3 linked regions of the Homo sapiens genome follow. The protein of the gene in region 2 purifies or fractionates together with the protein of the main gene of each other region. This does not show direct contact. Each region holds a gene or a part of one and is shown on either strand. Other genes may lie near its edges. The genes, in order: COP1, DMC1 and POTEF.

Region 1 (3,656 bases), on a different chromosome or scaffold from region 2:
CATTGGAAACACTGACAAAATTCACTGCTTGGGCTTATTGACGGCTTTCATTGCTTTGTGCCGCATTGTACTGGCAGTATGCATTAATCAGCTGTCCTGTGCAGTTTCTTGCCTTGCTGCTTAATCACTTGACTAATGACATTTTTGACAAAGAATACAGCTAGTTTCCTACAGCTGAATTACGTATTTCAGCTGTTGATATAAATCACTCTTTTAACAGTTGAAATGTTTCAAAATGTGAAAGAAAAATGCAATTTATGTCCCCAGAAACACGATTTTTCAAAAGTATACTTGTATGTTGAAATTAAAAACAAATTCTGTGAAATTGAATTTGTCATGCAGTAAATTTTTATAAATCTCTTGTTTTAATTATTACTGCTGACAGTGGATGGCAGAAATGAACGTTGTATAGCAGTAGTAAGACTTAAAGTTTGTTTTTGAATTTAATTGCATAAGCAACATTTCAGTTAATTAGTTTACCTTTTATTTAGTCTCAGCCTAACTAGTCACTGTTTAACTTTTGAAGTACTTTTGCTTGGGTTATCAGATTTCATAATAAAAGTAGTTGAAATATCATACTGTTAATATAAGAGGTCATCTGTTTTGTATTAGTTCTAGAAAGCTTTCTGCACCTGAAAATTACAGTGTTCATTTCAGTTAGTTCATGATCTGTTTTTAGAATCTCATTATGTTCATGTTTGAGAATATATATGATTAAATATGTCAGAGATAGGGAGCAAATGTTTCAGTATCTAGAAGTCCTTAAATCCTGAGTCTTAGTGATGTGGAAGTTCTTCCACTAAAAAAGGTGGTTTGAGGGGGGGGACCTGTTTGTCTTTCTTTCCCTTTTAATCAAAATTTTCTAGAAATAATATTATTCTTTATACTTTTTGATTAATATTTCTATTAAAATCTATTTTTACAGTATAAAAGGATCTTGTTACCCCCAAAATATTTTTAAAAACATACTCTACAGGTTCTTGATACCTTAATATATTAAAAACAAAACATAACCAAAATGTAAGAAAATAATAGCAATGAAATCAAAACAAAAAGTTAACTTTTTAATATGAGAGTTAAGAGTTAGCTAATGTCACTAAATAATAACATGTAGAAAAAAGAGAGAGAGCTGTCTTGAATAACAGGATACCAGCAGAAGAAATAATAGACATATTTAGGTCATCATCTTAATTCTTTTTTTTTTTTTTTTTTTTTTTTTGAGACGGAGTCTCGCTCTGTTGCCCAGGCCGGACTGCGGACTGCAATGGCGCAATCTCGGCTCACTGCAAGCTCCGCTTCCTGGGTTCACGCCATTCTCCTGCCTCAGCCTCCCGAGTAGCTGGGACTACAGGCGCCCGCCACCGCGCCTGGCTAATTTTTTGTATTTTCAGTAGAGACGGGGTTTCACCTTGTTAGCCAGGATGGTCTCGATCTCCTGACCTCATGATCCACCCGCCTCGGCCTCCCAAAGTGCTGGGATTACAGGCGTGAGCCACCGCGCCCGGCCCTTAATTCTTTTGACAGCATTTTTACTTATGTGTCAGTTTTCTCCCTGTAATGTATTTAAGCTATTATTTTGATAGGTTAGTGTTTAAACGTATTATATATGTTAAAACTAATAGTTTAGTAATGGCATACTTTTACTGGCACAACATTGGAATGGTGTTGATTAGCTATGTATATGAGTAGGCGGAGAAAAAGTATTTAGTGATAACTAGTTCACTTGAAGTCTCAGCTATACCAAAACCTCCTAAATTAAAAACAGGATTTCAGTTCTGATAATAACTCTGTCCTTTACCAGATAAAGTAGTATTTCTCCTTCAGTGACATGAGACTATGGGTATAAATTGAGTTGGGATAGATGAATAGTTGTCATCATTATAGTTATGGTGCATTAAAATCCACATGGCAGCAAGTAGTAGCTGAGGCAGCAGTTCAATTGAGGTTGTACAAATAAATCTACTGCATTGCTATAGTATCATACTTTACTGGAGGGAACATTTGCTGAATTGTGCCCTAGTCAGTGACACTTAACTGAATAAATTTTTTTTTTAAATTGGCTGGGCACCATGTCTGACGCCTGAAATCTGTAATCCCAGCACTTTGGGAGGCTGAGGTGGGAGGATTGCTTGAGCCCTGGAGTTCAAGACCAGCCCAGGCGACATAGTGAGACCCCATCTCTGTAAAAAAAAAAAAAAAAAAGAATTTTAATTCTTTAAAAAATTATATAAAATTAAGGAAGCATTTAAAGCTGTAAAGAAAAGTGGGCGTATCAATGTGTGTCTTTAAGGGAAATAGTCCTTGTTGTTGTTGTAGTTGTTTTTTAAGACAGGGTCTTGCTGTGTCACCCAGGCTGGAGTGCAGTGGCACAGTCATGGCTTACTGCAGCTTCAAATTCCTGGGTTCAAGCAGTCCTCCCACCTCAGCCTCCCAAGTCTCTGGAGACAAGAACCCATCACTATGCCTCACTAATTGTTTCATTTTTTTGTAGCGATCGGGTCTCACTATGTTGCCAGGCTGGTCTCAAACTCCTGGACTCAAGGGATCCTCCCACCTCGGTCTCTCAGAGTGCTGGGATTGCAGGCATGAGCCACCGAACCCAGCCTGAAATATTCTTAATGTGTCTTTTTCTTACTTACCATCATCAGTTCAGCAAGCTTCTTAATAAATCATTAATCATTAACTGTTCTGTGAATGGATATTAAGAAAATGGATGTTTGTATTTTTGTATGTAGGTGTTTGTATTTTGTGCATTAAATGAATGCTTAATAGATACAGAGCACTAGCTAGGCATTTTGAGAGAAGAAACACACATACATAGATATTGAAGATACATTCATACACATAGATTTTAAACCTTTAAACCTTTAGCCTTTACACTTTGAGTTTTACATTAAGAGCTTTGATCTGTAATAAAGCATAGTAATTATTAGCACCAGCTCTGAAACCAGACTACCTTGTGTTTGAATCCCACCTCAGCCACTTACAGATTGACTAACTTTGGGCAATTTACCTCACCTCTAATCTTCATTTTCTCATCTGTAAAATGTAGATAATAATAATACATATATCACAGGTTGTTATGAGGACTAAATGAGGTAATACATGCAAAATGTTTTAGTAAGTGAATGATTAATGAATATTAGGTATTATTGTGTAATTAATTGTAGATCAGTGAGAATTCTTATCGCTAAACCTCTAGAAAAGATGCTTAAATCATATTGAGGAATAATGTATGTGATGATTCATTTCAACTTTTACTACCTTTGGGCTAATTAGATTTCCAGCTGGTTATGTAACAACTGTGTTTAGGCTGCAAGTTCTGTAAAAGCGAGTATGATCTTGTACTTGCTTTCAAATAGCTTGTTTTGGAGCTTATATAAAAATGATCAGCAAGAGAGGAGTGAATAACGCTGAAGGAAAGGAGATTATTTATTTATTTATTTATTTAACCTCTTTTGTGATATGAGGAATGTGTATTGGGGTTTTATAATTCAGAGAGATATTTGGGGAGGGGGATTAGGTATGGATTTGGGGAAAAGTAATGATAATTCAGTGGTTCTGTTATATGTATTCCATCCCCTTGTCATCACCCAATTGCTTCAGTAATTCAAATTATATACTAATTTATTTATTAAAAATAAAATTTAATATTG
Region 2 (3,656 bases):
AAATTAATTTACTCAGTCTATAAATTTTATCATCTGGTAAGTCCTTAGATAATAAAGTGCCCTCAAATTATTTATTATTCTTTGTCTTTGAAATTAAGAGTAACATTCTTTTTGGATAATGTAGCATTTGGTATACATGCTAAGGCAGAATATGCAATAATTTTTTTTTTTTTTTGAGATGGAGTCTCGCTCTGTCACTCAGGCTGGAGTGCAGTGGTATGATCTCGGCTCACTGCAACCTCCAACTCCTGGCTTCAAGTGATTCTCCTACCTCAGCCTCCCAAGTCGCTGGGATTACAGGCACACGCCACCACACCCAGCTAATTTTTGTATTTTTTAGTAGAGTCAGGGTTTCACCATGTTGGCAAGGCTGGTCTTGAACTCCTGACCCCAAGTGATCCACCTGCCTCGGCCTCCCAAAGTGTTGGGATTATAGGCATGAGCCACCATGCCCTGCTGCAATAATATTTAATAAAGTCATCAATAATTAAGAAAATCCTTCAAGGAATTTATTTTGCCTGGCTCCCAAGAATATGAATGATCTTAGCCTCTGCTTCTTTCAACTTTTATAACATTTTCTCACTGCATTTCCCATCAGGTGAACATCAGATGGAGCTACTTGATTATGTAGCAGCAAAGTTCCATGAAGAAGCTGGCATCTTCAAGCTATTGGTACAAGCTTTTAAATATTGCTTTCACAGAGCTATTTAGCATAATATTTTTCTTCTATTGATCTCTATTCAAATAACGTCTTCCTTCAATTTCCAAATGCATGTTTATTTTTACATTAATCCTGTGTAGATTATCGATTCAATAATGGCACTTTTTCGAGTGGATTTCAGTGGCCGTGGGGAGTTGGCCGAACGGCAGCAAAAATTGGCCCAGATGTTGTCACGACTCCAAAAAATCTCAGAAGGTATATCTTTAAAATAAAATGGCATCTGTGACTATGTTTGTCAAGTATACTTTGCAGAGAAGCTTGGAATATAATGTCAGGAGGCAGCGATTTTTTTTTAAATAAAATTACCTTTATGAGAATACAACTCTTTGTTTTTTTTTTGTTTTTTGAGATGGTATCTCGCTCTGTTGCCCAGGCTGGAGTGCAGTGGTGCGATCTCGGCTCACTGCAACCTCCGCCTCCCAGGTTCAAGCAATTCTTCCTCCTTAGCCTCCTGAGTAGCTGGAATTACAGGCACCTGCCATCACACCAGGCCAATTTTTTGTATATTTAGTAGAGACGGGGTTTCACCATGTTGGCCAGGCTGGTCTCGAGCTCCTGACCTCGTGATCTGTCCGCCTCAGCCTCCCAAAGTGCTGGGATTACAGGCATGAGCCGCTGAGCCCGGCTTTACAACTCTTTTTAAACCAAAAATATTTATTCTAACCTTAATAATAATAATAACAAATAATTTCTGTTGTCAATGAAAAATAGGAATATGATGTTATTTATAAAATAAATTCATGATGCAATATGTCTAAACTCTGAAATCTAAACAATGAACTTTTAAATATCTATATTGCCTTTCTCATAGTTTTAAAATTTTATCTCTTGATGCAGAATATAACGTGGCTGTTTTTGTGACCAATCAAATGACTGCCGATCCAGGAGCAACTATGACGTAAGCCCCAATATTCTACTTTTTATTTCACAGAGGTTAATATAAAGAGGGTTAGAGCGTAGAATAGAAAATAATTTCAAGGCCGGGCACGGTGGCTCACGCCTGTAATTCCAGCACTTTAGCAGGCTGAGGCAGGCGGATCACGAGGTCAGGAGATGGAGACCAGCCTGACTAACATAGTGAAACCCCGTCTCTACTAAAAATACAGAGATTAGCCGGGTGTGGTGGCGCACACCTGTAATCTCAGCTACTCCGGAGGCTGAGGCAGAAGAATCACTTGAACCTGGGAGGTGGAGGTTGTAGTAAGCCGAGATCGCGCCATTGTACTCCTGTCTGGGAAACAGAGCAAGATTCTATCTCAAAAAGAAAAAAGAAAAAAGAAAAGAATTTAAAAATCATTAGTCTTTATGTGGGCACAAATATATCACAAATCACTTTATTACTGGGCGCAGTGGCTCATGCCTGTAATCCCAACACTTTGGGAGGCCTAGATGGTTGGATCACCTGAGGTCAGGAGTTCAAGACCAGCCTGGCCAACATGATGAAGCCTCGTCTCTACTAAAAATACAAAAAATTAGCTGGGCGTGGTGGCGTGCACCTGTAATCCCAGCTATTCGGGAGGCTGAGGTGGGAGAATCACTTGAACCTGGGAGGCGGAGGTTGCAGTGAGCCAAGATCATGCCATTGCACTCCAGCTTGTGCAACAAGAGCAAAACTGCATCTCAAAAAAAAAATCACTTTATTGCACAGTGTATATGACTTCATAATTGTAAATATCACTTGGTAACCAGAATCTATTTTTCTCTAGTTCTTTATAGAATAAAGCAATACTTTAACCATTTTCAGCAGTACTTTGGGCTTCTCTTTGGTCTAGGGCTAAAGGGGTATGGGAGGACAATAAGAAATAGATCCTAGGGAAATAAAAACTTATATTGCAGCTTATCAGTATAATAAACACCATTCATAAAAACAAAAAAGTCATCTTTCTACAGGATATACATGAGATATATTTATCAGAGGCACTATGGGAGAAGTCTCCTGTTTGAAGAAAAAGAATTTCAGTTCACACTAGGCATATTCAGAATTTGTTGAAGTGTTTGTGCACATAACTATTGATGACTCTGAAAGACGGCAGTGAATAGAAACACACAGAGAGCTAAAGTAGGATAATAAAAATAGATAAATCAAACAAAGGTTTGTTGCCACCGTAACAAATTTTGAGCATTATGTGTCTGAATAAGCAATCAAAATAATCCTAAATACACACCACTGCACTCCAGCCTGGGAGACAGAGCAAGACTGTCTCAAACAAAGCAAAACAAATCTAAATTCATGATAATGCTTTTTTAAAGTGTGTGTGTGTTTTTTTTTTTTAAGAGACAAGGTTTCACTCTGTCACCCAAGCTGCAATGCAGTGGCACCATCTCTGCTCACTGCAACCTCTGCCTCTCAGGCTCAGGTGATGCTCCAGCCTCAGCCTCCCGAGCAGCTGGGAGGCACACATCGCCACGCCTGGCTAATTTTTTTATTTTTAGAAGAGACAGGGTTTTGCCATGTTGGCCAGGCTGGTCTCGAACTCCTGGCCTCAAGCGATCCTCCCACCTCAGCATCCCAAAGTGCTAGGATTACATGTGTGAGCCCCCTTGCCTAGCCAAAAAGCTTTTAAAAAAATCTTTTAAAGGCTGGGTGCAGTGGGCAGTGGCTCACTGTAATCTCAGCACTTTGGGAGGCCGAGGTGGGAGGATCACCTGAGGTCAGGAGTTCAAGACCAGCCTGGACAACATGGCAAAACCCTGTCTTTACTAAAAATAAAAAAACTAGCCAGGCATGGTGGTGTGCACCTGTAGTCCTAGCTTCTTGGGAGGCTAAGACAGGAGGATCACTTGAACCTGGGAGGCAGAGGTTGAAGTGAGCCAAGATCGTGCCACTGCACTCCAGCCTGGGTGACAGAACAAGACTCCGTCTCAAAAACAAAAAAAAAAAAGATTTTTTTAAAGGTTTTTATTTAGAAAATATTTTTACCAGAGAGAAGTTAAA
Region 3 (3,656 bases), on a different chromosome or scaffold from region 2:
GATAGGGAGCCAACAATGTGTGCTGGAGGGGGCTCATTGGAGAAATTTGAGCAGGGGAGCCACAAGATTAAATTTGAGTATTAAGGCATTCTGGTTATGGTGTAAAATGGGTTAGCAAGCTTTTTCTTTAAAGGACCAGGTGGGAAATATTTTGGACTATGTGGTCTCTGTCATATCTACTTAACCGTGCTGTTGTCTGCTGTTGTAGTGTGAAAGCCACCATGATTATATGTAAGCAAACAGGCATGACTGAGCTCCTATAAAACTTTATTTACAAAACCATAATGCAGATTGGATTTGGCCTGTGGCCTATAGTTTCCTGGGATTGATGGGAGATAATCATGCAAAGAAACCAGGAGACAAAGGAAGCTTTTGCAGTAGTCAGCTATAGTTTCCATGTCACACATCCTTGGAGTAGCATCAATGTATTACAAGGTTTTCACCCGTCCATGGTAAAATAAATAACGTTAGAAATCTCAGTTACTCATTTTACTATGTTGGCCTTCGTTATGCCTTTTTCACTTGTTTTGCTTAATTTTTTTTCCTGTAAGAAATAACATTAATAGTTGGCAGTTTTCTTTTAAATAGAAGTCATTTTGTAAATGTTTGTGTTCCCAGTGGCAGTGGGAATATAAAACAGAGGCAGAAGAGAGGTATAGTCAATATGATTTAGTGATAATTGAATGAGAAAGGCTTGGGGGACAGAGAGAAATCTCAGATGATGTACAGGTTTCCAGATTGCACACTAGTATTTAACCTGGACATGAGGAAGGAGTAGGAAATTTTCTGGTGAATACAGGAGAGCAAAGAGCAGCAGGTCAGCAGGAATGACTAATGTTTTTCGATGCATGTTTAATGGAATATTCGTGTAGGGTATTTTGAGTAGGTAATTGGATAATCAGCATTTATAACTCGCATCCTACTAGTTTGACTCTAAGTAATAAGACTTGTCAAAGATCCAAGAATCTGAAAGTCAGTAATAAATGTCCATGTGCATCATCGTCCGTGACAGAAAGTCAGCATCCACAGAACACAGAATTGGGACAGATGAACTTAATAGATAAAGATGAATATCGGAGTTGTTCCTCTTAGGGAATGATACTCTCCATGACCTGTGTGAGTCACAGCTGCCAGAAAAGAAAGAGCAAGGAGCGTATGAAGGCAGCACAGCAAATTCGGTCCTAGAGTGCCCTGCTTGGCTTCATGTCATAGTTCTGACTTCTAAATAATCATTTTCTGCAAAATGTGCTTTTTGTTTTTCCCTCTTGCCGCCTGCAGCCAATCAGAATCTTTTTAGCAGGACATAATGAAAAGAAGTAAGAGAAAGAGTGTTTTTTTGTAATGGGATAGTATTTAACGTAAACTTGAGAGTGAGTACCAGGATTATACTTAGAATTTATGGACTGGATGGGAAGACTGGATAGAAATCTAAAGATTGCTGACTCAAACACAATGTGGTTTCTTTGATTTATTTTCACAGCTCTGAATTCACGACTGTTAATTGTATTCATATGCATTATAACTTTACAAAGCATCTTCCGAAACCAAATATTTACTGATTTATTATAATTTGTATGACTTTATTATAGAACTGACTTTCCAAGTGTTCATGAGAATTGTTTAGAATTTGCTACATTGTATCATCTCAGCTGTGTCCACATGAGCTATCTGTCACCTTGTCTTAATGAATAATTGTTCACTAGGAATATTGGTTTTGGCATTGAAATGATCTATATCTAAATGCAGATAGGACCCGGGACCACTTTTGAACATTAATGTTCAAGCATCTTAAAATTACACATAATGCTTTCATAATCTGACTTCTGCCCCACTCTCCATCTTTAGCCCTTTTCCCTGTGTGCCCTGTCTCTGGCATTACTGAACTGCTGGCAGTGCCCTACTCACTCATCCTTCTATTGTAGGCAAATACTTTCACTCTTTCAGGAGTCGCTCCCGCTCTTGCTGCTGCGTGGCATGCCGTCACCCTTTCCTGCCCTCTACACCTTTTAATCTGGCTAGTCTCAATATTTAAGTCTCTGCTTGGGCATGTGTTCTAGAAAAGCCATCTCTGACATGCTTTATTTTAATTCTTTTTAAACCCTAATGCCTAGCATGTATTTAGCAGGACTCAATAAAATATTTCTGAGTAAAACAAAGACTGTTTTTACAAAGATGATGTGCAAGACTCTCCCCTGCAGTCTTGGAGCAGAGGGGACAGACGTGGAGGAATAATGTACAGTTTAGGTGGTCAAGATGCAGTAGAAAAATCAGTAAAGTACTAAGGCAGCCTCAAGGAAGGAGGTACCTGTTTATTTGGGGAAAGACATGCAGAATCAAGGAAGACTTCATATAGCATTGTTTCAAAAGATGAAAATAAGGCCAGGTGTGGTGGCTCACACCTGTAATCCCAGCACTTTCAGAGGGAATCACGAGGTCAGGAGATCGAGACCATCCTGTCCAATGGTGAAACCCCATCTCTACTAAAAATACAAAAATCAGCTGGGTGTGGTGGTGCTTGCCTGTAATCACAGTTACTCAGGAGACTGAAGCAGGAGAATCACTTGAACCAGGGTCGCGGAGGTTGCAGTGAGCTGATCACACCACTGCATTCCAGCCTGGTGACAGAGGAAGACTCTAGCTCATAAAAAAAAAAAAAGAAAAAAGAAAAAAAGAAAATAAATTTGTCAGAATAGTGGAGAGAAACATTTTAGATATTAGGAAGATGTTGTACACTAATAAAGGTGTCAGCAGTGATTTTGGAAATCATTTATAAGGTACTATTAGGAAGTGGAGAACAGTACACTGTGTCACCTTATATGTTTCTACTGTATTTTAAAGCTGTGTTTCTGGTGGTTTTGTTCATGGATGTTGGGTGGATGAATTTGTGAGGGAATTTTTGACATGTTTGTTTGTCTTCAATCTGGTGACATCTGCTATCTCCCCAAGTGGGTTTTTGAAGTTTTTGAGAATTATTTCTTAAATGACAATTTCACAAAAGATGAAACACTCAATTTATGAAATAAAATGAAATGTCTCAAATCTGTTTTTAAAAGGCAATAGTTTTTAACTGTTTTAAGTGGTTGATTTTAACTGAATGTATGGATTTTTCAACAGAACAAGACTTAAAGCTGACATCAGAGGAAGAGTCACAAAGGCTTAAAGGCAGTGAAAATGGCCAGCCAGAGGCATGGAAACTTTTAAATTTAAACTTTTGTTTAATGTTGTGTTTTTTTTGCCTTAATAATATTAGATAGTCCAAATGAAATTACCTTTCAGACTAGGCTTTGAGAATCAGTAGATTGTTTTTTTAAGAATCTTTTGGCCAGGCAAGGTGGCTCACGCCTGTAATCCCAGCACTTTGAGAGGCTGAGGCAGGTGGATCACGAGGTCTGGAGATCGAGACCATCCTGGCTAACATGGTGAAACCCCGTCTCTAGTAAAAATACAAAAACTTAGCTGGGCGTGGTGGTGGGTGCCTGTAGTCCCAGCTACTCGGGAGGCTGAGGCAGGAGAATGGCATGAACCCAGGAGAGGGAGCTTGCAGTGAGCCGACATCCACCACTACACTCCAGCCTGGGTGACAGAGCGAGACTCCATGTGAAAAAAAAAAAAAAAAAAATTTTAATAGATTCTTAAAATTTATTGTAATAAAATCA

The links.
Region 1: the proteins of DMC1 (region 2) and COP1 purify together in Homo sapiens (affinity purification with mass spectrometry; 2 studies listed by BioGRID and IntAct, with this or other methods). This does not show direct contact.
Region 3: the proteins of DMC1 (region 2) and POTEF purify together in Homo sapiens (affinity purification with mass spectrometry; 3 studies listed by BioGRID and IntAct, with this or other methods). This does not show direct contact.

What each region holds. Positions count from the first base shown.
Region 1 is NC_000001.11:176,046,742-176,050,397, reverse strand, and holds part of COP1 (E3 ubiquitin-protein ligase COP1), read left to right. Parts: intron 1-3,656. UniProt on the Homo sapiens protein: E3 ubiquitin-protein ligase that mediates ubiquitination and subsequent proteasomal degradation of target proteins.
Region 2 is NC_000022.11:38,535,555-38,539,210, reverse strand, and holds part of DMC1 (meiotic recombination protein DMC1/LIM15 homolog), read left to right. Parts: intron 1-598; coding exon 599-672; intron 673-801; coding exon 802-916; intron 917-1,558; coding exon 1,559-1,619; intron 1,620-3,656. UniProt on the Homo sapiens protein: Participates in meiotic recombination, specifically in homologous strand assimilation, which is required for the resolution of meiotic double-strand breaks.
Region 3 is NC_000002.12:130,087,596-130,091,251, reverse strand, and holds part of POTEF (POTE ankyrin domain family member F), read left to right. Parts: intron 1-3,114; coding exon 3,115-3,185; intron 3,186-3,656.